Linked DNA regions of Homo sapiens. The protein of the gene in region 3 purifies or fractionates together with the protein of the main gene of each other region. This does not show direct contact. Each region holds a gene or a part of one and is shown on either strand. Other genes may lie near its edges.

Region 1 (7,025 bases), on a different chromosome or scaffold from region 3:
CTTATTTTACCTTCATCAAGACCAAGAGCTTTAACTATAACCCATGTTAATTAGCCAGATTTCTCCAATATTCTACCAGATTTAAAAGAATATTTTATTATCTAAACTTTTTCAACTTTCTATTTTCTCTGTATGTGCATGAAGACGGACATACAGAGAAACAGAAAAAAACTACACGACTTCCACAATAAACATACACAGATATTATACACATACTGAGGAGGCTGCATGATTTTTATATCAAAGTACATGCTTTTTCCACCACATAGTTCATTGTTGTTATGATAGAAAGCTTTTGCAAAAAATAAGCACATGCTAATAATAATTCAAGGTTTTAAGAATTTATAGGTTAAAAAAATACAATTCCTAGAACACTGTTATCAAACAAATAAGTTTTATTGGCATCTAAAAACAAAATTCACCCAACATTGAAACGTACTTTAATATTTATGTTGTTGTTTTCTTGTTTCTTTTTTACTCACTGCAGTATGAGGAACAAATCACAAACACTTACTTTGGAGAAACAGAGACCGTAGTGTAGATTTTACAAAATCACTTTTTAAAATCTCTGTATTGTGCTCCTCAAATACCTAGAGCCAGTCTTTGCATAAAATATCACAGCTTTATCTATAACCTTAAAATTCTGCAGCAGCCTAAAGATATGGATAAGATATACCACCACTTGCTATTCTGAAATATATCTATTACCATATCCAACCTAATGATAGTATCTAAAAAATTCTTTCTTCCATAGGAAGTCTCTGACAAGCTGTTATTCATTTCCTTGACGTTAAAAGAATCTGGGGCCAACATTTGTATTTTATCAGAAAAAAATAAAAAAAAAGTTTACCTACCATGTTCATATTAAGAACAATGTCTATACAAGTCAGTTGTACAATTATTTTAAGAGAAAGGTGAACATGAACATCAGATTAACTTAATTCTGGCAGACAAAAGTGAACAACTATGGTCCAGTCAGCCATTATCTATTACAGAGAGATGACAACTTTACAAAAGGTATCTTTTACCTACTGAGTGATGATTATGTCCCCTCAGTTTCTGTGCTTTCTACCACTGGTTCACTTTCTATATCAGCAACTGTGTCACTCTTCTCCTTGTTTATTTCATTTGAAGATGTCAGTTTTTCATAAAGTTCAGGATCATTCTGTACTGGTATAGGTGGTGGCTGAGCATGTCTCTCTGTATTTTCACCATTAACCTGAGGCACATTATCACCTTTTCGTTGAGAAGTGGCCCCTTCAAAATAATCAAAAACCCGAGCATGAGGAGGGGGAACCCAAGTGTTTTGAATTCTGTCTCGTCCAAGACGATTTCCATTCATTTCTCTGCAGAAATCAAAATCTCTGTCATCCCTATCCCTTTGCCTCTCCCAGGGTCTTCTGCGGTCATCAAAATCTCTGTGAACTTCTTGTCCAAATCCTCGGTTCCAAGGACCACTTCTAGGATCAAATCGATAGTTTCCAGACCGAAATCTACCTCTTTCTTCATGTAAGCCTTTTGGACCACCATAGACCGGTAGAACCCGATGCTCTCTCTCATCAAAATCTCCTCTATGCCCCCAGGGCTTCTCTGGATTAAAGCCAAAGTGGTCTCTTCGACCAAGATGATCTATACCTGGCCTCACAAGATTCTCTCTTATATCTACAGGAGGTCTTCCAAAATGATCCCTACCATCTAGTGGAGGCCGTCCAGGACCTTCTCTTGGATCTATAGGCCGCCCAACCACATCTCTAACATCCACAGGGGGAGGTCTACTAATGCTTTCCCTGGTTTCTATAGGAGGAAACCGGTAATCTCTATCTCCTTCCTGTTGAATGTTATCATTCCCAAGTGGTATCCTTTTTTCTGGGTTAGTAACATTGTCTACGCTTTGTCTTCCAGGAGCTAAAAAAGGTCTTTCTGGTTGACTAAAAATATCTCCTGGAGGAAAAGGTCCACGGGGTGGTGGATGAAGAGCTGAATCAAGTACCGATGGGGGTGGGATTCCCCGTTGGGGTGGAATTCCAGGCTGTATTAAAGGGAATCTTGGCCCAGGTGCCTGTGGTATTAGTCCCGGACGAATGTCTAACATTGGCATTGTGGGCATCCTTTGATTAGGGATACTTAAAGGGGGTAAGTTTTGAGGTCCAGCTGGTGGCTGTGTTCCCAGAAGTCCAGGAGTATTTGGAACATTTGGTGGCTGTACTCCTACAAGTCCAGAATTGTTAGGTATATTTGGGGGTAGCACTCCCAAAAGTCCAGAACTATTTGACACACTGGGTGGCTGTATTCCCAATATTCCAGAGTTATTTAGAATATTTGGTGGTTGGGCTGCAATAATCCCAGAACTACTGGAAACATTAGATGGCCGGACCCCAAGAATTTCAGAATTACTTGATACATTTGGTCTTTGGACTCCCAGAATTCCAGAATTGCTTGTCACATTTGGCGGCTGTCCTCCTAAAATTGCAGCATTACTTGAAATATCATTTGGAATCACTAAAAAAAAAGAGAGAGAGAAAAAACTCAAAATAACAGTCAAAAGTTTCCAATAATTTTAGCTTAATCAGCTACTTGTATCCCCCAATAATCAAGGTACATTAGCTACTACATGACATCTTTTTAAGTTAAACAGAAATGTCAGGTATTATACTGATTTTCCACCTTTAATAAAAGCCTTTCTAAACCATAATTCTTTTTTTTTTTTTTTTTTTTTTTTTTTTTTTTTTTTTTTAAGAACAGGAGTGGAGGTTTAAAAGGCTTTAGGACAGGAAAGAAAGGAAAGAAAAGTATGCTTAGAAGAGACCCAAACAGGCATCAAGGTCAAGTGCCTCTAAACCATAATTCTTAATGTACCAACAGTGGGACCATAGAAAAAGGACTTACTGCTTTCAAACACCATATTTATCTTCTAGAGCTAGCTGGATAATACCTATTAGAAGTAAGTTCCCGATAGAAGTTACTCACACCCAATACTTGTTCATTTTTATCTTCCTATAAGTATACAGATTTTGTGCAGTATTATTTTGACAACACACTGAAGTAGTCCCAATAGGACAAAAAAAAGGGGGTGGTGGTGTGAGGGTCTTAATGGAAACATATTGAAATCTAGATTATCCTGAACAGAAGGCCACTTTTTCAAATAGAAATTTTAGGACATAGTGATCTCTTTTAAAAAAAAAGTGCGACATTTCAGCATCTGTAGATTGAAGTGGTTACAAACGCATGCCACCCCAGAATTAAACACCAAATACAGAGAGGCAACCTCTTTTTTTAAATTTTATTATTATTATTTACCTGATCTGGTGTTTTCACCAGAAGAAATCTGGTGGTCTATAAGATGAGGTACTTTTTCTTCAGGCTCTGCCTGTTTAGTTGGAGCATTAAAAACATTTCCAGCTGGCAGAGCGGAAGTAGCAAGATTGCTGGCAACAGAACCGCCTGGTATAACAAGGCTACCAAATCCAACATCTTTCACAGTTTCCGGTGTCATGGATAATGACGGCTGCACTAAAGCTGTTTAAAGAGGAGAAAAATATATTTCAGATTTAATGAGTCAATTCATGTGCTAAGTTTTCTGGCAGTCTGAGTATTTAATTTAATGGCATCTCTGTATTACTAAGCACATTATATAATAACCAATGCTCAAATGACAAAAGGAGTCATCATGAATAGGCTAAATTACATTTAGAAAGCTTTATCCAAAAATAGGGAAAACTAACAATTTTCAGAAATATTTCACCAAAGATGTTAGGACCAGCACTCAAAAAAAGTAAATTCTAGTAACAAAAAAATTAATAATTTTCTAGGAATGCCAGATAAAGTGAATGTCTAAACATACAGAAATGACTAGTGCAGACTGAAATGTATGAGTATGAAAATCTGCCCAATCCCCCTGCAATTACAATGTACTAGGGTCCTAACATTCATTTAACATTACCTTTTGTCAGATGAAGTTAGAAACTCATCAGTTGAGAATACATAAGGTGGACTACAAATATGAAGCTATAAACTTTCCATCTTAAAGAATGGGTATAAATATCCCTAAGTGCATTTGTCACACATATTAAAAAACACAACCAGAGGAATACAAAATAATTACACAATTAAAATTTTTAGCCCAATATGTCACTTAGAATGCCGTAAAATCATACTTGGAGAACTTAGGAAATGTTTTATCTTCATATGTAACTCTAGATTACCTGAACAAACTGTTAGCATACAACAGAGCTACAAAAATAAAAACACCTGTGGTCATGCACAAGAATTAAGAGAATTAAATGAGACAGCAAAGGCAATTTGGATAGCATCTGGCACACAACTATTTCTCTTTTTCCATTAATTAACTGCAGATTTTCCAAAATTAGTGGACTAGGAAAAAATTGGGAGGTTGGCCCTAGGGTAAGCCTCTGTGAATAGTGAATTCAGAAATGACTTCTGAACACTTTGTCTAATTTTCAGAAAGAATAAACAATTCTTCCTAATGAACCAACAATAACAAAAAGAAAGACTTTTAAACCTATCTTTTTTTTGAGACAGTCTCTCGCTCGGTTGCCAGGCTAGAGTGCAGTAGCGTGATCTCGGCTCACTGCAACCTCCACCTCCTGGGTTCAAGTGATTCTCCTGCCTCAGCCTCCTGAGTAGCTGGGATTACAGGCGTGCGCCACCACACCTGGCTAATTTCTGTATTTTTAGTGGAGACGGGGTTTCACCATGTTGGCCAGGCTGGTCTGAAACTCCTGACCTCGAGTGATCCACCCACCTCAGCCTCCCAAAGTACTGAGATTACAGGCATCAGCCACCATGCCCGGCCAAATTTTAAAGCTATGTAAACACTGAAAGGGAGAAAAAGTTTAAGAATACAAGGAAAATGAATTAGATAATCAAAAGTTAAAACCTTTATATATCACATACACTCTTCAGGTCTAATTTTTGAGGTAGGCTTGCCTGAATTACTAAAGGTTTTTTCAGAAGCTTGGAGAATTACTGTACATAAAGAGTACACTAGAATGAAAAAATTATTAAAAGGGTATATTTAGCATTTCTGTAACGTCCAATGATAGAAAAAAGGAAATGAATAAATGTCTATATTTACTGTTGCATTACATTACTTTTGAAATGTCTATTCTAGTAAAGAAAATACAGATATCAAAACCAAGTAAGCTAGAGTGCATATCCCATAAAAATGTAAAAAAAAAAAAAAAATCACTTATGAAACTGGCACCACATCTACAAAGAAAAGATTTATTTCAGGTAACCCTGATACACAATAATTTGATTATACATTATTTATTAAACTTTTATGTTCAGGGGTACATGTGCAGGTTTGTCATATAGGTAAACTTGTGTTTGTTATATAGGTTACTCATGTAACAAACAAATATTTATAGATACCTGCACATGTACCCCTAGTTATGATTATACACCTTTGGGATAAAAAAAAAGTGGCAGAAAAATCTTAGTGTCATCTGGTAGCCTTGTTGGCAGTAACACTACTTTCAAACTACTATGTGTATGTCTATATTGTATGAAAATGAAAAGCAATCACGTTACTGTTTTCAGTATATGAGAACACAAGCAAATATAAAAATCAAAGTAGCTAATTTCTTTAATAATACTTCATATTCATTTTTTTCTGTTCAAAATGCACATTTTCTAGTTTTGTCCACTAAAAATTCCTAGACTCGACGAAAACCCAAGAGCAAAATGAGAATCTAGTACCCAGACTGAGTTCTCTAGATACCATACCCCAACTGGAAAAATGGCTGATTCTCAGATTGGAGGGAGGAAAACACAAGATTTGTCTGGGATATACTGGGCCAAAAAGCTAAGTAGCTCTCAAAACTAATGTGACAGGGAGGCAACACAGGTCTCCCACCGTCCAAAGATGAAACAATCTACACTTCAAAAAAAGAAAAATGCAACTGACTAGAAGTAAAAATCCATTAATCCATAAATACTAAAGAAACTGAAGGAGAAAAAAAAAAGGGAGAGAGGGACAAGGGAGGAGAAGATGAAGAGAAATGAGAAATCTCTCTTTGGTCACTGGGTATCACTGGAAATACCTATAGATCTCATGACTCTGAGAAATGGCAATTAAAGAAAAAAATAGCATCTACCCTGACTTTGCTGTACCAACCACACTTCAAGGTAACTAAGTACCATTACCTGATTAAGGAAAACTTTTTCTTCATTTAAGTTAAGAAACATGGAAGGAATTATACATTTAGAAAGATCACCACTCTGCAACTAATAAAAAGTAGATCTAAGAAACAATGATCAATGGATGAAAGGAAATGTTTTTAATGACCAGGTTCTACTGTTCCACTAAATGTTCTGATCAATCTTAACATCATTAAAAGGGGAACAAAACACCAAGAGTGAATCAAAATGCAAACTAAGGACTTTGGGTGATAATGATTTGTCAATATAGGCTGGCTAATTGTAATATACGTACCACTCTGGTGGAGGATGTTGATAATGAGAGCCTGTGCAAGTGTGGTGGGTGGGGGCTTATGGGAATCCTCTGTACTTTTGGCTCCATTTTGCTGTGAACCTAAAAAACTGCTCTAAAAAATAAAGTTTTACACCGCCCCCCCCCCCGCCCCGCCCCAAAAAAGGTGTGGGGCAGGAGGACAAAAAGGCACTGCAAGACTTCTGATGTGATAGATAATACCAATCCTACAGCATTTTGCTTCTCAAGTATTCTTGCTAAAACAGGTGAACCGGAATCTAAGCAAGCCTTTGGTGCTAACTTCCATTTTACAGGAAATGCAAAGACAGTAATTTCAGTACCACAAAGAAGCAAAAAACCAAATCCATTATTTAAGCTCTTATATACAGAATGAACTGTTTCTTCAACAAGTCATGAAGCATTAAGAAAAGGAAGGGAGGACTGGGGCAGGACTGCACTAACATTAAGACATTTAATACACATAGCAAAACAAAAAACACACAAATAGGATGAGAGGACCTTCTCTGAATTTTGACTAAAATAAAACCAATCATAAGAGTTTAAGACAACC
Region 2 (7,769 bases), on a different chromosome or scaffold from region 3:
GTTTTTGACAGGTCCTGGCTCTCTTCCCACAGTTTTCTATTTGGAACATGCACTCACCAGTAACTTTGATCTTTCTGAGGAGAACTGGCATCCAATGTCCCTAGTCATTCATTTTGGGAAAAAAGACAAGACCTGTTGAATTACATCTATTTGAGGATCTCTGAGCTTCCTGTATCTGCATGTCTAAATCTCTTTTTAGACTTCGGATGTTTTCAGCTATTATTTTATTAAATAGGTTTTCTATCCCTTTTATTTTCTTTCTGTTTTCTGGGACACTAAAAATCCAAAATATTTGGTTGCTGTATGGTGTCCCATATTTCACATGGGCTTTTCTCATTCTTTTTATTCTTTTTTCTTCATTTTTGTCTGACTGGTTTATTTCAAAAGCGCAGTCTTCAAGTTCTGAAATTCTTTCTTTTGCTTGATTTAGCCTATTATTTATGCTTTCAAATGTATTTTGTATTTCATTCCATAAATTCTTCTAGAATTTATTTGCTGCTTTTTAAAGTGATATCTGTCTGGTAAATTTCTCATTTATATCCTAAGTTGTTTTTCTGATTTTTTTGTATAGTTCCTCGGAGTTCTCGTGTGTCTTACTGAGCTTCTTAAAAATCTGTATTTTCCATTATTTATTCAGCATTTTGTTAATTTCTTTCTGATTGGATCTGTTGCTGGTGAATTATTATATTCCTTTGGAAGTGTCATTTTCCCTTGCTTTTCCATGTTTCTTGTGCTAATTCACTGATGTCTGTGCATCTGGTGTAACAGTTGCTTCTTCCAATTTTTGAATTTGCTTTTGTAGGGAAGAACTTTTTCCTGAAGATGTATTTATGATATTGGTTGGGTAGTGCTTTGATTCTGTGTATGTGCAGTATTGCAGTCTCCATATGATTTTTTTGGCTGTAAGCAGTGTCAGTGGTGCCTGTGATTTTCTCAGTGGCATAGGGTGCAGCTGCTAGTACAGGCTGTGACATTTTCGTGGTCACAGGTATATCAGGTTGGCCAGTGCTCAGGCTTTATTGGTGAAAACATCAGGCTGAGCATGCCTGTCACTGGGCCTCTGGGTGGCATAAGCTGGCATTGGCATTAGTTGGTCCAGGTGGGCTGATTCCTGGGGCTCCAGGTAGCTTGCTCACATGTTGGCAGTGGCAGAAGTGGGCTGGGTGAGTGGCCATATCCTCAGGCCTCTTGGCAGTGGGCGTGGCATGGTGATGGCAGTAGCAGTGGCAGGATAATCCTCTGCCTTGCAATTGGTCCTCACTAGTGTTGGCAGTGACTACAATGGGCTGGGTGGGCTAGTACCCAGGCCTGCATGTGGCATGTGTGAGTGGATGCCTGCTGTGGTAGTAGCATCAGGTTGGGTGGGCTCATTCCCAGGACCCTGGGAAGAGTGCTCTGGTGTTAATGGTGGTTTATGGGGCAGGGCAATTCCCAGACCACCTGATGGCATGTTCAGCACTAGTAGGTGGAATCAGGCTGAGTAGGCCTGTCCTCGGGTCCCTTTTTTTTGTTGGCAATTTTTTGATTACCATTTCAATTTTGCTGCTTGTTCAGAGATTCTGTTCAGAGATTCTGTATCTTGCTAGTTTAATCTAGGAGGGTTGTATATTTCCAGGAATTCATCCATCTTTTCTAGGTTTTCTAGTTTATGCTCATAAAGGTGTTCATAGTAGCCTTAAATGATCTTTTTTATTTCTGTGGTATCAGTTGTAATCTCCTGTTTTATTTCTAATTGAGCTTATTTGGATCTTCTCTCTTCTTTTCTTGGTTATCTCACTAATGATCTGTCAATTTTATTTATCTTTACAAAGAACAAGCCTTTTGTTTCATTTATCTTTTGTAATTTTTGTTTGTTTCAATTTCATTTAGTTCTTCTCCGATTTTTCTTATATCCTTTCTTCTGCTAAGTTTGGGTTTGGATTGTTCTTTCTCCAGTTCCGTGAGGTGTGACCTTGGATTGTCTATTTGTGCTCTTTCAGACTTTTTGATGTAGGTATTTAGTGCTATGAACTTTCCTCTTAGCACAGCTTTTGCTGTATCCCAGAGGTTTTGATAGGTTGTGTCACAATTATCGTATTGTACAGTTCAAAGAATTGCAAAAATATAGAACCAGCCCAAATGCCCATCAATCAATGAGTGGATAAAGAAAATGTGATATATATATATCCCATAGAATATTACTTAGCCATACAAAGGAATGAAATAGTGGCATTCACAGCAACCTGGGTGGAATTGGAAACTATTATTCTAAGTGACGTAACTCGGGAATGGAAAGCCAAACATTGTACGTTCTCACTCATAATTGGGATCTAAGCTATGAGGATGCAAAGGCATAAGAATGATACACTGGACTTTGGGGACTTGGGGGAATGGGTGGGTGGTGGCAAGGAATAAAAGACTACATGTTGGGAACAGGGTGCACTGCTCAGGTGATGGGTGCACCAAAATCTCAGAAATCATGACTAAGTAACTTATTCATGTAACCAAACACCACTCGTTCCCCCAAAACCTATTGAAATTAAAAAAAAAACAAAACACATGCACACGAATGTTCATTGCAGTACTATTCAGAATAGCAAAGACATGGAGTCAACCTAAATGCTCATCAATGACAGATTGTCCAAAGAAAATGTGATACATATACACCACGGAATACTATGCAGCCATAAAAAAGAATGAGACTCTGTTATTTGCAGGAACATGGATGGAGCTGCAGGCCACTATTCTTAGCATATTTACCCAGGAACAGAAAACCAAATATTGCATGTTCTCACTTATAAATGGGTGCTAAATGATGAGAACTCATGGACACAAAGAGGGGAGCAACAAACACTGGGACCTACCAGAGGGAGGAGGGTGGGAGGAAGAAGATCAGAAAACATAACAATTGGACTAGGCTTAGTACCTGGGTGACTAAAAAATCTGTACAACAAATTTCTGTGTCATGAGTTTACCTATATAACAAACCTACATGTGTACCCCTGAACATAAATAAAAGATTTTAAAAATTTAACTGATTATATGTTTAATGTTTATTTTTGGGCTATTCTATTTCATTTGTTTATGTCTGTCCTTATGCTGGTACCACGCTATTTTGATTACTTCAGGTTTGTTGTAAGTTTTGAAATCAGGAAATTTGAATCATCCAACATTGTTCTTTTTCAAAATTATTTTGAGTACTCTGAGCCCCTTGAAATTCCATATATATTTTAGAATAGACTTTTTTATTTATACCAAAAACATCATTGGGATCCTGATCGGGATTGCTTTAAATCTATAGATCACTTTTGTGAAGTATTATCCATTTTAATAATTGTAAGTTTTCTAATTCATGAACATAGAATGTCTTCTCATTACTTATGCCTCCTTCAATTTCTTTCAGCAATGTTTTGTATTTTGCAATGTACAAGTCTTTTGCCTCACTGGTTAAATTTATTCCTAAGTACTTTACTCTTCTTGATAGTATTGTAAATTGAATTGTTTTATTAGTTCCCTTTTTAGATATTTACTTCATAGCATATAGGAATGTAGCTGATATTTTTGTGTTTATTTTGTATTCAGCAACTTTGTTGAATTTGTATATTACCTCTGTGTATGTGTTTGTCTCCCTCTCTCTCCCTCTGTATAATATTTGGCGTTTGCTACACATAAGGTCATGCCATACGTGAACAGAGGTAATTTTACTTTTTTTCTGTTTTTTTTTCTTTCTTGCCTAATTCCTCTGATTAGAACTTCTAATACTATGTTGAATAAAAATGGCAAATGTAGGCATCTTTGCCTTGTTCTTCATAATAAGACATCCTGTGATTTTTAACATGCATTATGTTGTATGTTTTGGCAGCATTGTTGTTTTTCTTGCAAATAATTTAATAGTTTAACTCAAAGCTTCTAGGATGCTTTCATGTTGTTAGGTGAATCATTCCATGACTGCCGAATAAGGAATTTTCCAAGTGAATCTCAGAAATTTGTGTTTTAATAAGTGCTTCAGGTGATTCTGTTGCATACTCAAGTTTGAGAACCATTGTCCAAGGGGCAAAAGCTGCCATTGCCAATTGCTCTTTTTTATCTGAGAGGGGGCAGGATCCTCCTGGTCCACTGCTTGTGGATGCAACTTATTAAATGAAATAAGGCCATGAGTACTCTAGGGCCCAATCTCTGCTTTTTGTTTTGTTCACTCCTGTTTAAAATTTCACTCAGGGCTCTCTTTGGAAGAATTGCACTTACCTTTGCCATCCGGGGCTGAGGTTTCATTTTCTTTGGTTATTCCCCAGGCCAGTACCATTTGCTTTTTACTTTCCAGAAGTTCTGTAAAGATTGTTGATGGTACCCTTTCTTAGCTTTTTTTTTTTTTTTTGGTCTTGATATAGTCCTATTCTTCTAAAAAATCTTTTCATTTGTCTCCGTCAGACTTTGATGGAGAGGAGGGGAGATATTGTTTACATTTGTTAAAAATGGCTTTTAAGTTAAATTCTAACTAAGGGTCTATTAGGAAATAAAATTGCCTTCTGACTCCTTTTGATTTATTTTGCAGAATTGCATATATCCAAAGCTCTGGGTAATTATTAAACATTAGAAGTATAGAACAAACAGGCCAGCCAGGCCCGGCGAGGCCGCGGCGGGTCCGGCGCCCCGGACCTCCGGACCCGGAGGTCCGGCGCCCTGGTTGGCGCCCTGCCCCCAAAGTCCGTCCTCCCCGTTAGGTGGCGCCCAAGGGGAGGGGACAGCCGGGCAGGCAGGAAGCTGCGGCTTAAAAGGGCAACCCGCGCCGGACCCTTCCTTCCTAGTCGCGGGGAGTCTGAGAAAGCGCACCTGTTCCGCGACCGTCACGCACCCCTCCTCCGCCTGCCGCGATGTACCGCTACCTGGCCAAAGCGCTGCTGCCGTCCCGGGCCGGGCCCGCTGCCCTGGGCTCCGCGGCCAACCACTCGGCCGCGTTGCTGGGCCGGGGCCGCGGACAGCCCGCCGCCGCCTCGCAGCCGGGGCTCGCATTGGCCGCCCGGCGCCACTACAGCGAGTTGGTGGCCGACCGCGAGGACGACCCCAACTTCTTCAAGATGGTGGAGGGCTTCTTCGATCGCGGCGCCAGCATCGTGGAGGACAAGTTGGTGAAGGACCTGAGGACCCAGGAAAGCGAGGAGCAGAAGCGGAACCGGGTGCGCGGCATCCTGCGGATCATCAAGCCCTGCAACCATGTGCTGAGTCTCTCCTTCCCCATCCGGCGCGACGACGGCTCCTGGGAGGTCATCGAAGGCTACCGGGCCCAGCACAGCCAGCACCGCACGCCCTGCAAGGGAGGTATCCGTTACAGCACTGATGTGAGTGTAGATGAAGTAAAAGCTTTGGCTTCTCTGATGACATACAAGTGTGCAGTGGTTGATGTGCCGTTTGGGGGTGCTAAAGCTGGTGTTAAGATCAATCCCAAGAACTATACCGAAAATGAATTGGAAAAGATCACAAGGAGGTTCACCATGGAGCTAGCAAAGAAGGGCTTTATTGGTCCTGGCGTTGATGTGCCTGCTCCAGACATGAACACAGGTGAGCGGGAGATGTCCTGGATTGCTGATACCTATGCCAGCACCATAGGGCACTATGATATTAATGCACACGCCTGTGTTACTGGTAAACCCATCAGCCAAGGGGGAATCCATGGACGCATCTCTGCTACTGGCCGTGGTGTCTTCCATGGGATTGAAAACTTCATCAATGAAGCTTCTTACATGAGCATTTTAGGAATGACACCAGGGTTTAGAGATAAAACATTTGTTGTTCAGGGATTTGGTAATGTGGGCCTACACTCTATGAGATATTTACATCGTTTTGGTGCTAAATGTATTGCTGTTGGTGAGTCTGATGGGAGTATATGGAATCCAGATGGTATTGACCCAAAGGAACTGGAAGACTTCAAATTGCAACATGGGTCCATTCTGGGCTTCCCCAAGGCAAAGCCCTATGAAGGAAGCATCTTGGAGGTCGACTGTGACATACTGATCCCAGCTGCCACTGAGAAGCAGTTGACCAAATCCAACGCACCCAGAGTCAAAGCCAAGATCATTGCTGAAGGTGCCAATGGGCCAACAACTCCAGAAGCTGATAAGATCTTCCTGGAGAGAAACATTTTGGTTATTCCAGATCTCTACTTGAATGCTGGAGGAGTGACAGTATCTTACTTTGAGTGGCTGAAGAATCTAAATCATGTCAGCTATGGCCGTTTGACCTTCAAATATGAAAGGGATTCTAACTACCACTTGCTCCTGTCTGTTCAAGAGAGTTTAGAAAGAAAATTTGGAAAGCATGGTGGAACTATTCCCATTGTACCCACGGCAGAGTTCCAAGACAGTATATCGGGTGCATCTGAGAAAGACATTGTGCACTCTGCCTTGGCATACACAATGGAGCGTTCTGCCAGGCAAATTATGCACACAGCCATGAAGTATAACCTGGGATTGGACCTGAGAACAGCTGCCTATGTCAATGCCATTGAAAAAGTCTTCAAAGTGTACAGTGAAGCTGGTGTGACCTTCACATAGATGGATCATGGCTGACTTCCTCACTAACCTCTTCACGTGTAACTTCTGCAGACCTACCACAAGTTTACATGTAACCACAGAAATCCCTTTCTCTCCTGACTCATTACTAATGGATACCATTCTCAACAAGTCAATCCAAATCAGCCCGTTAAGGAGAAAGAAATTAATATACAAGCTGAGTGTGAAAGTAGAAATCACCTACACCAGAGAGCTATTTTGGTATTTTGCCTTTAAATAAAAAGCCTCCTCCATATGGCTGTGCAGCCTTGCTCTGTGGCTTTTCCCAGCACAATCAGTGCTAGTGCTGGGGAAGGGACAGTCAAGAGCAGTCAGTTGCTTACTTATTTTGCTCTGGATGAGTCTGGGACACGCTGTAACTTTAACACATTTAAGAAGAAGGTGTGTGGCCTTTTCAGAAGGTGGCATGGTCCTCAAGTGAGTTCTTAGTATTTTATATCAGCAAAATAACTCAATTTTGCAGATTGCAAACAAATATAAAAGCTGTTTCTGTTTATGAATTTTATTCTTTTAGAATAGAATAAGTACATGCTGCTGTAATAAAATTGCCTTTAATCACTTAACAAGCCTAACCTTGACTCAGTGAATGCCTATAAAAATAATAAATGAAAAAAAACAGTATTTTTATATCATAAAAGTTTCATTTGTAGCTTATCATTCACGTATTGTTGTCCAGCAAACATTAAAAGCCCTGTGGATAATTACGTTATCTTCATACCTGCAAAACGGTGGAGGCTATTTTCGTTAAAACTGTCAGAATTCGCTGTTATAATTATGACACATAGTCCAAAGAATGCAGTAACCTTTTTATCATGTTAACTAATTGTTCTCTTTTGAAGATCTATGGTTGACTAATTAAACAATAATTCAAGTAGAGTGTCCCAGAAAAAAACCACTTGGGCTCCCTGTTTGGAGTCTGGCTGGCTCTGAGCATTGCCAATGGCCCCTACTCACCTGACTTTGTATCCTCTTCTTTTAGAGGCTTTGCATTCTGCACCCAGCTTCACTAACAGTGGGCTGAAACCAACCTTGGGTTGAGTGTTTCATTTGGGAGTTATTTGGCCAGGGCCTTTTGAACAATAGTGTCCCCATGAAGTGCTAGATAATATATGTGTAAGAATCAGCTTTTTTTTTTTTAACTATAATATCCTTCAGAAATTTCTAACTACTTTGTAACTGCATGGCTTAACCTGGTGATAAAAGCAGTTATTAAAAGTCTACATT
Region 3 (7,025 bases):
CCTGAGGGTTAGCAGGGGCATCTGCATATACTGTAGCAGGCTGGGCAAGGAGTCTTTCTGCTCTTTCTTGGCATGCTTCACCCAACTGATGACAGCCTCAAAGACTGGTTCTTCAGGATCCACCTGAATTTCATCGCACTTGATTAGCTTTTCCACCTCTCCTTGCCTCAGAAGAATGAACTCTTCATGCTGTACCACTTCAGGAAAATTCTTCTGGCTAAAAACCTCAGCTGCTTGTGTCAGGTCAACACAATTGTGGGTTTCAGCAAAATCCCTAATACCCAGGCAATTAGAAGGGTCCAACTGACTTTCTAAGAACTCACAGCAGGCTTGTTTCACACCTTTCAACTGAAGCAGACAGGCTGCAGGAAGCAGTTCCTGTACATTCTCCATGTCACATGTACTGTTTCCGTGTACACAAAGTCCAATAAAATTTCCATGGTAGAGGCAGTCAAACCTTGGATGTCAACATAGGGTTTCCCCTTCTATAAAGGTCACTAGTGAACATGGCACAGAAGTAATCACTACAGGCAGCCAGCACAATCTCATGGGCAGGAAAGTCTTTCTGCTCTACTCAATGTCACATCACAGAAGGTATTGCTCTTCCCAACGGAGTTCATTGAACTGAGGATTGATTTAGCATGAGTATTTGTCATTATGTCTTTGGGGGCCATAATGCCTCCCATAAAGCAGTGCGGAGAAAGAACAAAAATAGGTCCTTGGATTCTGCAACTCTGCTTCTGATCCCACACAGCCGCGCCAGGGCCTGTCCCCAGCCTGTGGGGATGGAGTGGGGTGCGGGTCCAGCAGGTGGCTCAGGAGGAGCCGAAGCGTCGCCGCCGCCGCCCCGGCCCGGAGGCTCTGGAGCTGTCCGGGTCTGCTCCCTGCGGCCACGCGACGTGATGACCAGAAGAAAATCTTGAGGATCTAGCTAGGGCTAGGCAAGGAATTCTTAGACTTGACCCCAAAAGCATGAGCCATAAAAAGAAAAATTGATAAGCTGGACTTCATCAAAATTAAAAAATATTTGCAAACCACCTATCTGACAAAGGACTAGTATTAAATAAATACATATATAAACAACTCTTAAAACTCAATAAACGGCCAGGTGTGGTGGCTCACACCTGTAATCCCAGCACTTTGAAAGGCTGAAGTGAGCGGATCACGAGGTCAGGAGTTCGAGACCAGAGACCAGCCTGGCCAACATGGTGAAACCCCATCTCTACTAAAACTACAAAAATTAGTTGGGCGCGGTGGCACACGCCTGTAATCCCAGCTACTTGGGAGGCTGAGGCAGGAGAATTGCTTGAACCTGGGAGGCAGAGGTTGCAGTGAGCCGAGACCGTGCCTTTGCACTCCAGCCTGGGCGACAGAGTGAGACTCCATCTCAAAAACAAAAAACCTTGGCAAAATACTGCAAATAACCCCATTAAAAAGAGGGCAAAAGAAGCCGGGCACGGTGGCTCACACCTGTAATCCCAGCACTTTGGGAGGCCAAGGTGGGTGGATCACGAGGTCAGGAGATTGAGACCATCCTGGCTAACACGGTGAAACCCCATCTCTACTAAAAATACAAAAAATTAGCTGGATGTGGTGGCGGACGTCTATAGTCCCAGCTACTTGGGAGGCTGAGGCAGGAGAATGGTGTGAACCCAGGAGGCAGAGGGTGCAGTGAGCTGAGATTGTGCCACTGCACTCCAGCCTGGGCGACACGGCAAGACTCTGTCTCAAAAAAAAACAAACAAAACAAAACAAAACAAAACAAAAAACAGAAGGCAAAAGAGTTGAAGAAACATTTCACTGAAGAGGATGTATAGATGGCAAATAAGCATATAAGGAGATATGTAACATTATTAGCTATCAGGGAAATGCAAATTAAAGCCACAGTGAGAGAACTACCTCAGGATGACTAAAATAAAAAGTAGTGAAAATACGAAATACTGGTGACTGTGCAGGGAAACTATGCTCATGGATTGCTGATAGGAATGTGAAATGGTACAGCCACTCTGGAAAACAGATCTGGCAGTTACCATCCTGGGTATTTATCCCAGAGAAATGAAAACTACTCTGTATACGTTAGCCAGGCATGGTGATGCGTGCCTGTAATCCCAGCTACTCCGGAGGCTGAGGCACAAGAATTGCTTGAACCCGGGAGGCAGAGGTTGCAGTGAGCCAAGATTGTGCCACTATATTCCAGCATGGGCAATAGACCAAGACCCTGTCTCAAAAAAATAAAAAATAACTTATCTGTACATGAATGTTAATAGTAGCTTTATTGGTAATAGCCAGAAACTGGAAACAAATCAGGTGTTTTCAACAGTGAATGGTTAAACAAGCTGTGGTAGATACCCATGGAATACTACTGAGCAATAGAAAAGGAACCAACTATTGGTACATGTTGAGTACCCTTTATCTGAAATGCTGGGGACCAGAAGTGTTTTGGATTTCAGATTTTTTCAGATTTTGGAATCTTTGCATTATAGTTACTGGTTCAGCATTTCTTATCCAAAAGTCTGAAATGCATTTCCTTTGAGTGCCGTGTTTGTGCTCAAAAAGTCTCAGATTTTGGAGGTACTCAACCTGTACATGCAACAACCTGGTAGAACCTGGGTTGGGGTAGAAAGCCAATGTCAAAAGGTTGTATACTGATTTAATTCAGACAACACTCTTGAAGTTACAAAACTGTAGAAATAGAGAAGAGATTGGTGGTTTCCAGGGCTTAAGGAAGGGATTAGGGTAAGGGAGGTGAGTGGATGTCACCCTAAAGGGCAGCCCCTCGGGATCCTGGTGGTGATAGGACAGTTCTGTGGCTGTGTCCACGTCAGCATCCTGGTGACCCTGTGATATAGTGACACAGGCTCCTACCATGGGGGAAAGAAGGCACGTGAGACCTCTGTATTTTTACTTCCAACTACACGTGACTACACTTATCTCAAAATGAAAAGTTTAATTAAAAAGAAAAACCTCGGCTGGGCGTGGTGGCTCATGCCTATAATCCTAGCACTTTGGAAGGCCGAGGCAGGTGGGTCACGAGGTCAGGAGATCGAGACCATCCTGGCCAACATGGTGAAACCCTGTCTCTATTAAAAATACAAAAGTTAGCTGGGTATGGTGGCGGGCGCCTATAATCCCAGCTACTCGGGAAGCTGAGGCAGGAGAATCATTCGAACCCGGGAGGCGGAGATTGCAGTGAGCCGAGATCGTGCCACTGCACTCCGGCCTGGTGACAGAGCGAGACTCCGTCTCAAAAAAAAAAAAAAAAAGAAAAACCTCCCCAGACCCCTACTGGTGATAGGAGAAGACCCAAACCAAACCCTTGGTGTGTGTTCTTCCTCCCCACTGCTCCGTCCACCTCTCTAGACTCTTGTGTTTTTGCCACCCGCATGGCCTCAGTGTTAGTGACTTGCCCAGTAACATAGCTCTGGAGCCTCCACACCCTGAGGGGCTCCTCTACCCTCAAAACACCCAGGGCCTTGCCTTGGGGCCTTCTGTTGGCCTGCTGGGTGTGAGTGGGTGGGTTCCGGAAGTGGTAGGGCCAGGGTAAGAGGTGCCCATGATGGGGGCAGGCTGGGCCCTATGGAGATAGCCCAACAGAGGGAGGGTAAAAAGCCCACAGAAGGTTCAGGACCAGAATCAAGAACCATGTGTATTTTTCTCCCCACATCATGAGTTTAGTGTCAGATATTATTTACAAACATTTTAAAAGCAGGGTCAGCAGGCCCGGAGGATTGCATGTCCAGTGGGAGTGGGGGAGGGGTGGAGGCCACTGAGGGTGGGTCAGCGGTCCCCAGGGTTCTGTGGCTTCTTCCAGACTGGCTTGGAAAAAATGCTTTTATTTTCTTGGAGTTCCCCCATGCAGATGTTAACTTTAGGAGCAAAGGAAAGACAAAGGCTACATTTCATTTCTGAGTCTATAGATGTATCCGCTATTGGGAAGAGGTTAGAGGTCAATGACTAGGACAGTATGTCCCATGAGAATCGAGGGAGGATTCTTGTCTGTATGTGAGTGGGAAGTGGTGAAGCCTCACAGCGTTGTCAGGCAGGTGTGGGGTGGTGATTGGCCTTGACAGAGTACCCAGCCACCCTTCCTCACTGCCCTCTCACGCCATTTCTCCTGGTGGCTCCACACAGGTGTATGCCCACGCAGGCGCGACGCTGGAGGGGAAGATGTATATCACCTGCGGCCGCAGAGGGGAGGATTACCTGAAAGAGACACACTGCTACGATCCAGGCAGCAACACTTGGCACACACTGGCTGATGGGCCTGTGCGGCGCGCCTGGCACGGCATGGCAACCCTCCTCAACAAGCTGTATGTGATCGGGGGCAGCAACAACGATGCCGGATACAGGAGGGACGTGCACCAGGTGAGTGGGGCCCGGGGCAGTCCACACCCGTCATCATTCCCAAGCCTCTCAGTTGTTATTGATGGAAAATGTAATTGAATCATGTGCCTTTTAAAAATAGACTATTTTTTAGAGCAGTTTTAGGTTCACAGCAAAATTAAGTGGAAGGTACAGTTTCCATACACCCCCTTTTCCCCCCATACACATATAGCCTCCCCACTGCAGACCTCTCGCTCCAGAGGGGTGGATGTGTCACAGTTGTTGAAACTGCATTGATGCATCACCATCAACCAGAGTCCACAGTGTTCACTCTTGGCACATTCTATAGGTTTGGACAAATGTCACCATGACAGTATCACACACATACACATCTACCTTTGCTTATTACTCTTAAAAACTTTTAGGCCGGATGTGGTGGCACATGCCTGTAATCCAAGCAGTTTGGGAAGCCAAGGCGAGAGGATCACTTGAGCTCAGGAGCTTGAGACCAGCCTGGGCATCATGGCAAAACCCCATCTCTACAAAAATACAAAAATTAGCCAGGTGTGGTTGCATGCCTGTACTCTCAGCTACTTGGGAGGCTGAGGTTGGGGGATGGCTTGAGCCCAGGAGGCAGAGGTTTCAGTAAGCTGAGATCACGCCACTGCACTCCAGCCTGGGCGACAGAGCCAGGCCTTGTCTCAAAAAAAACAAAAAAAAACAACAACAAAACTTTTAGATCCAGGCTGGCAGCACATACCTGTAGTCCCAGCTACTCAGGAGGCTGAAGTGGGAGGATTGTTTCAGCCCAGAGTTGGAGGCTTCACTGAGCTATGATCACACCGCTGTTCCCCAGCCTAGGTGACAGAATGAGACCCTGTCTCTATTCAAAACAAAATAAAACAAAACAACAGAACAAAACTTTTATTATAAAGTTAATATAACCACATTGCCGGAACTTTAAAAAATAGAGATGGGTGGCCGGGCGCGGTGGCTCACGCCTGTAATCCCAGCACTTTGGGAGGTTGAGGCAGGTGGATCACGAGGTCAGGAGTTCAAGACCAGCTTGGCCAAGATGGTGAAACTCCATCTCTACTAAAAATACAAAAATTAGCCAGGTGCGGTGATGGGCGCCTGTAATCCCAGTTACTTGGGAAGACTGAGGCAGGAGAATCGCTGGAACCCGGGAGGCAGAGGTTGCAGTGAGCTGAGATCACACGACTGCACTCCAGCCTGGGCAACAGAGCAAGACTCCATCTCAAAAAAAAAAAAAAAATAGAGAAGGGTGAGGAAAAGCATTCATAATCAGGCCCCTGCAGTACTGTTTTTCAGTATGACCATTTTCAGCATTGACCGTGTATGTTTTCTGCCTGATTGTAGTCAAAGAGCATCCCATTCTGAGCTGGGCACAGTGGCTCACACCCGTAATCCCTGCATTTTGGGAAGCCAAGGCAGGTGGATGGCTTGAGTCCAGGAACTGATACCAGCCTGGGCAACATGGTGAAACTCCATCTCTACTAAAAATACAAAAAAAAATTAGCCAGGCATGGTGGCTTGCACCTGTGGTCCCAGCTACTTGGGAGGCTGAGGGAGAATCAACTGAGCCCAGGAGGTTGAGGCTGCAGTGAACCGTGATGGTGCCACTGCACTCCAGCCTGGGCAACAGAGCGAGACCTTGTCTCAAACAAACAAACAAACAAACAAAAAAGAGCATCCCATATCCCATTCTGCTTCTCTCAGTGACTTTTGTCCTGGGCATTTTCCAGATTAACACTCAATCTTCATCATCCCCTCTTGTGTCTAAGTTTTAACTATTCCAAATAACATGACAAGTAATAGTTGCTTTGTTGAGCTTTTCAGGTATTTTGGATTATTTCCTTAGGTTCATGCAACAGTTCTCAAAGTGTGATTCTCAGACTAACAGAGTCTGCATCACCTGGGAACGCTGTGTTACGAGGCACCTCAGACCCACTGATTCGGAAGCCCTGAGGGTGGGTCTTGGCGATCTGGCTTTTAACAGGTCCTCTGCTTGTGAGATCCTCTGGGCCAGCACATTAGTTTTCTATTGCTTCAGTAACCTATCACCACAAACATAGCAACTTAAGATAAATTTATTCTGCATTCATAAGTCCTCTGACATGGGCCTTGCCAGGCTAAAACCAGGGTGCGGTCAGGGCATCTTTCCTTTGTGGAGACCCTAGTGGGGATCTGCCTCCCTGCTCACTCTGGTTAGAAGAATTCAGTCCCTGGCAGTTGCAGTCCCATTTCCTTGCTAGCTGTCAGTTGAGGGCCTTCTTGGCTTCTAGAGGTCCCCACTTTTCCTGGCTTGGGGACACTTCGTCTTCAAAGCCAGCAATGGCAGGTTGAGTCCTCCTCACTTCTCAGCTCTCTTGTCTGGCTTTACCCTTCCTTTTTTTCTTTTTTTTTTTTTTATGAGATGGAGTCTTGCTTTGTCACCCAGGCTGGGGGGCACTGGTGCAGTCTCAGCTCACTGCAACCTCTGCCTCCTGGGTTTAAGCGATTCTCCTGCTTCAGCCTCCGGAGTAGCTAGGAGGACTACAGGTGTTCGCCACCACACCTAGCTAATTTTTCTATTTTTAGTAGAGACGGGGTTTTGCCATGTCGGCCAGGCTGGTCTCAAACTCCTGACCTCAGGTGATCCACGCACCTCAGCCTCCCAAAGTGCTAGGATTACAGGCGTG
Region 4 (7,025 bases), on a different chromosome or scaffold from region 3:
ATATGACGAACATTTTCTTTTATTAATAAATGCATAGCTCCCCCCACAACAAAGGAAATCCCTAGGGGATAAACTATAAAGCACTTCCCCACCTGGAGATTTTGATATTCTCTAACCCAGAAGGCTTAGATTTAATTAGCAATGTGCAGGGAGGAGGCAAGCCATGGGCTTGCTTGGAGTCAGAATTAGATCTAAAATTTGGTCCTCCCTTTGACCTTTGGTACTAAAATGCAGAAGGCCCTGGATTTTCGGAGGGAAAAGTCTGATGCTGGCCTTTGGGGGAAAAAGTCTCCCCTGAAAACTGATAGTTACGCTCCTACACTCATTACAAGTTGGGGTATGAATTTATTACTTTCTGCATAATCCAGGAACTTCCAAGCTAAGCAATGAACAAAATAGTTTCTGTTTATAATTCCCAAATTCCTGGCAGTAACAAATGCATAATCTCTCTGGAAGGAGATACCCTTTGTATCTCTTTACTTAAATAAAGGTAAATAAAGTCTACTAAACTTACAAAGAACCCAAGAAAACAGTCTACATTGAGTCAGCAAATAAATCAGACCTCTAAGAACTTTAAATAGTAGAATTATTAGATATAGACTGTAAAATAATTTAATGTATATTTAAAGTACTTAAGGAAATAAAAGACTGCCATAGAAATGATATACCAAAATAGGCTATAGATATTTGAAAAAAGAATAGAATAGAATCTCTACAATGAATATAGGCATTGAAATGTACAACTAAATGGATGCATTAAGAAACTGAGCAGAAGTCTGATGAAGTGGGAGACAGATCAGAAAAAAAATTTCCCAACACAGCAATGACAGTGAAATAGGAGAGGCAGTTTTCAAAAAGTAAAATGGATCCTATGTAAACATGGATGAGAATTTTGATTAAAATTAGTGCGTCTTTGGTGAAAAATGTAGCGTTACCTATAGCACTGCTGCAGTGCTTTCTTGCATTATAACATTTTCTGGCAATATAGCCTTAAAAATTGGTTACATCCAATAATGCATTTCTTAGACCATCAAAAAAATAAAATCCAGTATTTTTGTATGGTATAATGAAGTAAATTCATTACTAAATATAATCAAATAACTTTAGCACCAGAAGGATTCTAAAAGAACTTTTGACATAAATAGAAGTTAGGGAACTGATTTAATCCCACAGGTCTAGGTAATGACAGAGCTGCAGCTAGAAGATTCCAAGTCTAGCGTTTTTTTCTCTGTGTTTTGCTGCATATTTTAGACATGTAGATAAAGCTATTTTGGTCAGATTTTCAAGATCAAAAGTTTAGGTTTTAAAGCATTTTGGAAAAAGCTGAAAGTGTGTATAAGGCATTGCTAATATAATATAAGCAGTTCTTTTAACCAGTAATGTTTTTAATGGAATTACTGTTGCTTTCCCCATGTTGCTTTATCAGAGCAAGATATGTGAATTACATCAAAACATCAGAGGTTGTCAGACTGCCCTATCCTCTCCAAATGAAATCTTCAGGTCCACCTTCTTACTTTATTAAAAGGGAATCGTGGGGCTGGACAGACTTTCTAATGAACCCAATGGTATGTATCAGGCTAAAATAAAGCACTTTACTAATACCTAATTTGCTTCTAGGCAGTGGAAACTTCAAACCTCTGTGAGATAGAAAGCTGAGGTCAGATTGGTGGATGAAAGGATAATTGTGAATAATTTGCAGATTTCAGAAGAATAGTGGCTTTGGGAATACATAATGAAGAGAATATAATGAGAATTGCACTGTAGATTTGATTATTGAAATGTGTAATAGAAATTGGATAAATATTTATAGCATGTTTTACATTTCAAATAGAATAAGAATACTCAGTAAGTCAGTCATACCTGGAGCTGTCTCATTCTTCATACTACCTGCGTATTTTTTGTTTGTGGTTTGTTTTGGCTTTTTTTAGACGGGGTTTCGCTCTTGTTGGCCAGGCTGGAGTGCAATGGTGCGATCTCGGCTCACCACAACCTCTGCCTCCCAGGTTCAAGCGATTCTCATGCCTCAGCCTCCCAAGTAGCTGGGATTACAGGCATGTGCCACCACGCCCGGCTAATTTTGTATTTTTAGTAGTGACAGAGTTTCTCCATCTTGGCCAGGCTGGTCTTGAACTCCTGACCTCAGGTGATCTGCCCGCCTCGGCCTCCTAAAGTGCTGGGATTACAGGCGTGAGCCACCGCACCCAGCCATACTGCCTGCATATTATTAGTCCATTGATGAATGTGCCATCATTTATTAACCAGCCCCTATTGATAGCACAAGTAAGGATTTCTTCCTCTTTTTTTAACATGTGTAGTGAAGAGAAAAGTTATTCTATGGTAATTTAAGTAGTTGGCATTATGAACCGATGTTATGATACTCACTAATAATAAAACACTAATAGCATGCATTCTTTAAAAATTTGTTTTTATTTTTAATTATTATAGGTGCCTAATAGATGTACATTTATGAAGTACATATGATGTTTTGATATAGGCATACGATGTGTATTAATCACATCAGGGTAATTGGGATATCCCTCACCTTAAGCATTTATCATGTTTTTATAAATGTTAGGAACATACCAATTCCACTCTTTGATTGTGATTTTAAAATATACAATAAATTATTGTTGACTATCATCAAGAAAACAGTTTTTAGAAACAAATCGACCTTTTCTTTTGCTGTTTTTAAAAATTGAATTGCTGTCTTAGAATTTGTCTAAGTAGGCCAGGCGCGGTGGCTCACGCCTGTAATCCCAGCACTTTGGGAGGCTGAGGTGGGCGGATCACAAGGTCAGGAGTTCGAGACCAGCCTGGCCAACATGGTGAAACCTCATCTCTATCAAAAATATAAAAAGTTAGCTGGGTGTGGTGGCGGGGACCTGTAATCCCAGCTACTTGGGAGGCTGAGGCAGGAGAACTGCTTGAACCAGAGGGGGTGGAGGTTGCAGTGAGCCAAGATTGCACCACCACACTTCAGCCCGGGGAACAGAGCGAGACCGTGTCTCAAAAAATAAAAATAAAAATAAAAGAATTTATCTAAGTTTTGGTCATAATCCTTGCTGATAGCTATTTAGATCACACATGATCTGTTTTCAGAGGCTGTATATCCCCTAGGGAGGAATAAATTAGTACCTAGAATCTGTAATCAGAGATAAAGAGGCGGGGGGAGACTGGATGGAAGAAGTCAGCAGTGAAACTCCAGAGCTTATTCACCTTCCATGTTCTCATTTCTGAAATTCCGTGGAAGTGTATCTAGTGCTCCAGTGCTTGATGCTTCTAGGTCATTTTTCAAAACTGGTCTGCTAAAGTAGGTCAGTTTTCCAAGAACCACAGTCACCTGAAAAGAGCAGTTAGCTTGCCATCAGATCACCAATCCCATTGCCAGACTATAGATTAAAAAAAAAAAAAAAGGGAATAGATAGTTCCATTTGCAAACTATTTGTGTTAAATAACACTGTAACTCTGCAAAAAGATAGGTGGGTGGCACAACTATGAAGTGAGGTGTCTATAAAGTCCAAACATACATACAGAAAACTTTAATATTCTATAATAGTCCACCATAGTCAGACAGACAGCCCCTTGCTATCATCAGAACTGGCTCAGTAGAATTGCGGTGGTTGCTACTAGTGTTATTGTATAGACAACGTTTAAATCTTTAATTTTACCATTGGTTGTTAAGTGCAGTTTTTGTTCTATTAACTGTAAAGTGGGGGAAAAACATTTTCTGGATTTTTTTTTTCTGCAGGTTATGATGATGGTTCTTCCTTTATTGATATTTGTGCTTCTGCCTAAAGTGGTCAACACAAGTGATCCTGACATGAGACGGGTAAGATGATGGTCCAGCTATGGATTTTTTTTTTTTTAAGAGATAGAGCCTCTGTTGCTCAAGCTGGAATGCAGTGGCACAATCAGTTTGAGTGGCCTCAAACTCCTGGGCTCAAGCTATCCACCTGCCTCAGCCTCCCAAAGCACTGGGATTATAGGTCCGAGGCACCATGCCTGGCCCCACCTGTGGGTTTTTGAACCGTATTGTGATGTTTGCTCTGTCCCATCGTAGCTGGGTAGCTTAGTTTTTCTCAATTTTATTCTAGTTCCCAAGCCAAATTAATCTAGAGGTTGTATTAACATAGTATCATGTTTATGGCTTTTAATTAGTTGCTTCCATTAGACTAGATAAATTGTTAGTTCTGCCTGGCCTGGATCTCTTTATGTAGCTAAAACATCTTACTGCATCCTAGCCTCTTTGTGTGCCTTACTTTTTAAATAGCTGAAATGTACAATACTTCTGGTATGCTGAATCTAAATATTTTACAAAGTGATTGTTCCTGTGATCTGCCTTTACTTTACAAAACTCTCTTCAGAGTACATACTCAGTTTATGTGTTCAGACACACAGATAGACCAAGGGGGATGGATAAGTAGAAGAGTGACCTTTGAATTCTGTTCCACAAAACCATACTGGTTCTGCAGAGGGAGAGGATTTGCTAAGTAGGATGCTTCCAATTTAGTGCCACCACATTTTCTCTTTGAATATTGGCTTCTATTTGAACTCTTCATTTTTTCAAAAAACCATCATGCATTTTTCCGTTCAACCATCAACAAGTATCTTCTGAGTTTCAAGGTTCCCCATTTTATTTAGTATATAGATGTGGTGACATTTTATTCATTCCTGAGTAAACATTTATCAATTTCTAGGGTCTAGATACTGGAGATACAGAAATGAATTATAGGCCATACCTGTCATCAGTAGGCTCAGTCCCAGTTAAATGTAGAAAATAGAATGGATTTATCAAATATTCTTCTTGCTATCAGGGGATTTTGTGACTTTTTCTTTTCTTTTTTCTTAATAGAAATTTGTCTTATTTCTTAAAGAAATAAGGTAAATAAAAATGTTTGCTAAGGTAGTAGGTGATTATGTTCTGTGGAAGGTAATAAGGGGTATATTCAAAGCAGGAATGGCAGAAAAAGATTCATAGGAAAAGAAAGGTTTTTGATATTTCAAAATGTTTTATTGGTGAATGTTTGCATTTTTGCTTCAGTGTTAGACTGAAAGTAATACATCCTGTGCATTCCTTGTATATGTTAAGCCAATTAACTGTGGCATCAGTAGAAGGAAACATCAGAAGTCACATTTGATTAAAAGTTCATTCTGGCCGGGCGCGGTGGCGCAGGCCTGTAATCCCAGCACTTTGGGAGGCCAAGGCAGGTGGATCACCTGAGGTCAGGAGTTCACGACCAGCCTGACTAACATGGTGAAACCCCGTCTCTACTAAATACAAAAAAATTAGCCGGGCATGGTGGCGCATGCCTGTAATCTGAGCTACTTGGGAGGCTGAGACAGGAGAATCGCTTGAAACTGGGAGGCAGAGGTTGCAGTGAGCTGAGATCGTGCCATTGCACTCCAGCCTGGGCAATAAGAGCAAAACTCCGTTAAAAAAAAAAAAAGTTCATTCCTTGTGAAGTGCTTTGCACATAGTAAGCATCTTAAAAAGTTGATTCAAGAGCTTCAGAAGCTCTCTTCCTTGGCACTGCCTGCAGAGGTGGCACCATCTCCTACTTGGCATCATGGCTGCCCTCAGATCCTTTGTGAAGCCCAAGATCATCAAAAAGACAACTAAGAGGTTTATCTGGCACCAGTCAGACCAATATGTCAAAATTTAGCTTAACTGGCAGAAACCTAGAGGTGTTGACAACAGTGTTCGTAGAAGATTCAAGGGCCAGATCTTGATCCCCAACATTGGTTATGGGAGCAGCAAAGAAACAAAGTACTTACTACCCAGTGGCTTCTGGAAGTTCCTGGTCTACAACATCAAGGAGCTGGAAGTACTGCTGATCTGCAACAAATGTTACCGTGCTGAGATTACTCACAGTGTTTCCTCCAAGAACCACAAAACCATCTGGAAAGAGCAGCCCAGCTGGCCATCACAGTCACTAGTCCCAATGCCAGGCTCCACAGTGAGGAAAAGGAATCAACGGCTCTCATGCATGTTTTATTTGTGTTTAAATAAAACCACAAAAACTGAAAAAAAAAAAAAAAAAAAAGGGGAGCTTCAGAATTGAACAGATTCAAAAATAGAGTTGATATATGTTTGCAGGGACTCAAGAGCTGTTACCATATACATTTATTTCTTAATTATTGGGGCATGTTAACATACTTGATTTATGTTTACAATATTTCTTTCGCTAGCCTTATTTGTAAAAGCAACTTCTCCTTTAAAATTTAGGAATCAATTCTACCTTTGTGGGAAAAGCTCAAGCTAATATCCCAACAGTGTTCAATTTGAAATGGAAGCCTAGTGCTGTGCTGTGTGCCTATAGTCCCAGCTGCCCAGGAAGCTGAGGCAGGAAGATCACCTGAGCACTGTCTCCTAAAAAAAAAAAGAAAAGAAAAAAATGAAAGAAATGATAGATAATATAGTATTTGCTATCTTTTTCATGTATGAATGAACTAAAGTCAATTTTAAGTTCACTTTGAGAATGTCACTTAAAATTTAAATGAAGCAGATGTTACATTAATATTATATAACTATCAAACAGTACTTTATAGATTTTTGGCTCAATTAAAGGGGAGGACAAATACTCAAAAGTGCCAAGTCCTATCCTGTTTTGCCAATGACTTCTTTGTAACAGTGTGTTGCTTGCTTTAGAGTCTAATTGAAGTCATGCAAGCCATACAGCATTCATAGATTTACTACTGAGGCTTATAAATGAATTCTTAGAAATATTGCACTTATTTTCCAAACTGTACTGATACCTTGATATATAGTTAAAAATTAATATTCTGGTTATATGCATCTAAAGGAAGCATGAACTTAAAAATGTACTCATTAAAACAATAAGAAATCACTTTAATCAGAAAACATAAAATAAGAGAGGAATATGATCAAATATATTCAGTATCAGAAAAAAGTGTTCTTTATTAAGACAAGCAGAATCACACGAAAGGGAACATCACACACAGGGCCTGTTGTGGGGTGGGGGGAGGTGGGAGGGATAGCATTAGAAGATATACCTAATGTTAAA

The links.
Region 1: the proteins of KLHL22 (region 3) and SCAF8 purify together in Homo sapiens (co-immunoprecipitation; 3 studies listed by BioGRID and IntAct, with this or other methods). This does not show direct contact.
Region 2: the proteins of KLHL22 (region 3) and GLUD2 purify together in Homo sapiens (co-immunoprecipitation; 4 studies listed by BioGRID and IntAct, with this or other methods). This does not show direct contact.
Region 4: the proteins of KLHL22 (region 3) and EMC7 purify together in Homo sapiens (co-immunoprecipitation; 4 studies listed by BioGRID and IntAct, with this or other methods). This does not show direct contact.

The regions. Positions count from the first base shown.
Region 1 is NC_000006.12:154,827,413-154,834,437, reverse strand, and holds the end of SCAF8 (SR-related and CTD-associated factor 8), read right to left. Parts: intron 3,517-7,025; coding exon 3,298-3,516; intron 2,500-3,297; coding exon 1,043-2,499; 3' UTR 217-1,042; downstream 1-216. UniProt on the Homo sapiens protein: Anti-terminator protein required to prevent early mRNA termination during transcription. Together with SCAF4, acts by suppressing the use of early, alternative poly(A) sites, thereby preventing the accumulation of non-functional truncated proteins.
Region 2 is NC_000023.11:121,042,835-121,050,603, forward strand, and holds GLUD2 (glutamate dehydrogenase 2, mitochondrial precursor), read left to right. Parts: upstream 1-4,775; 5' UTR 4,776-4,850; coding exon 4,851-6,527; 3' UTR 6,528-7,260; downstream 7,261-7,769. UniProt on the Homo sapiens protein: Important for recycling the chief excitatory neurotransmitter, glutamate, during neurotransmission.
Region 3 is NC_000022.11:20,443,783-20,450,807, reverse strand, and holds part of KLHL22 (kelch-like protein 22), read left to right. Parts: intron 1-4,131; coding exon 4,132-4,365; intron 4,366-7,025. UniProt on the Homo sapiens protein: Substrate-specific adapter of a BCR (BTB-CUL3-RBX1) E3 ubiquitin ligase complex required for chromosome alignment and localization of PLK1 at kinetochores.
Region 4 is NC_000015.10:34,084,857-34,091,881, reverse strand, and holds part of EMC7 (endoplasmic reticulum membrane protein complex subunit 7 precursor), read left to right. Parts: intron 1-1,426; coding exon 1,427-1,565; intron 1,566-3,748; coding exon 3,749-3,829; intron 3,830-5,515; exon of another isoform or gene 5,516-6,024; intron 6,025-7,025. UniProt on the Homo sapiens protein: Part of the endoplasmic reticulum membrane protein complex (EMC) that enables the energy-independent insertion into endoplasmic reticulum membranes of newly synthesized membrane proteins.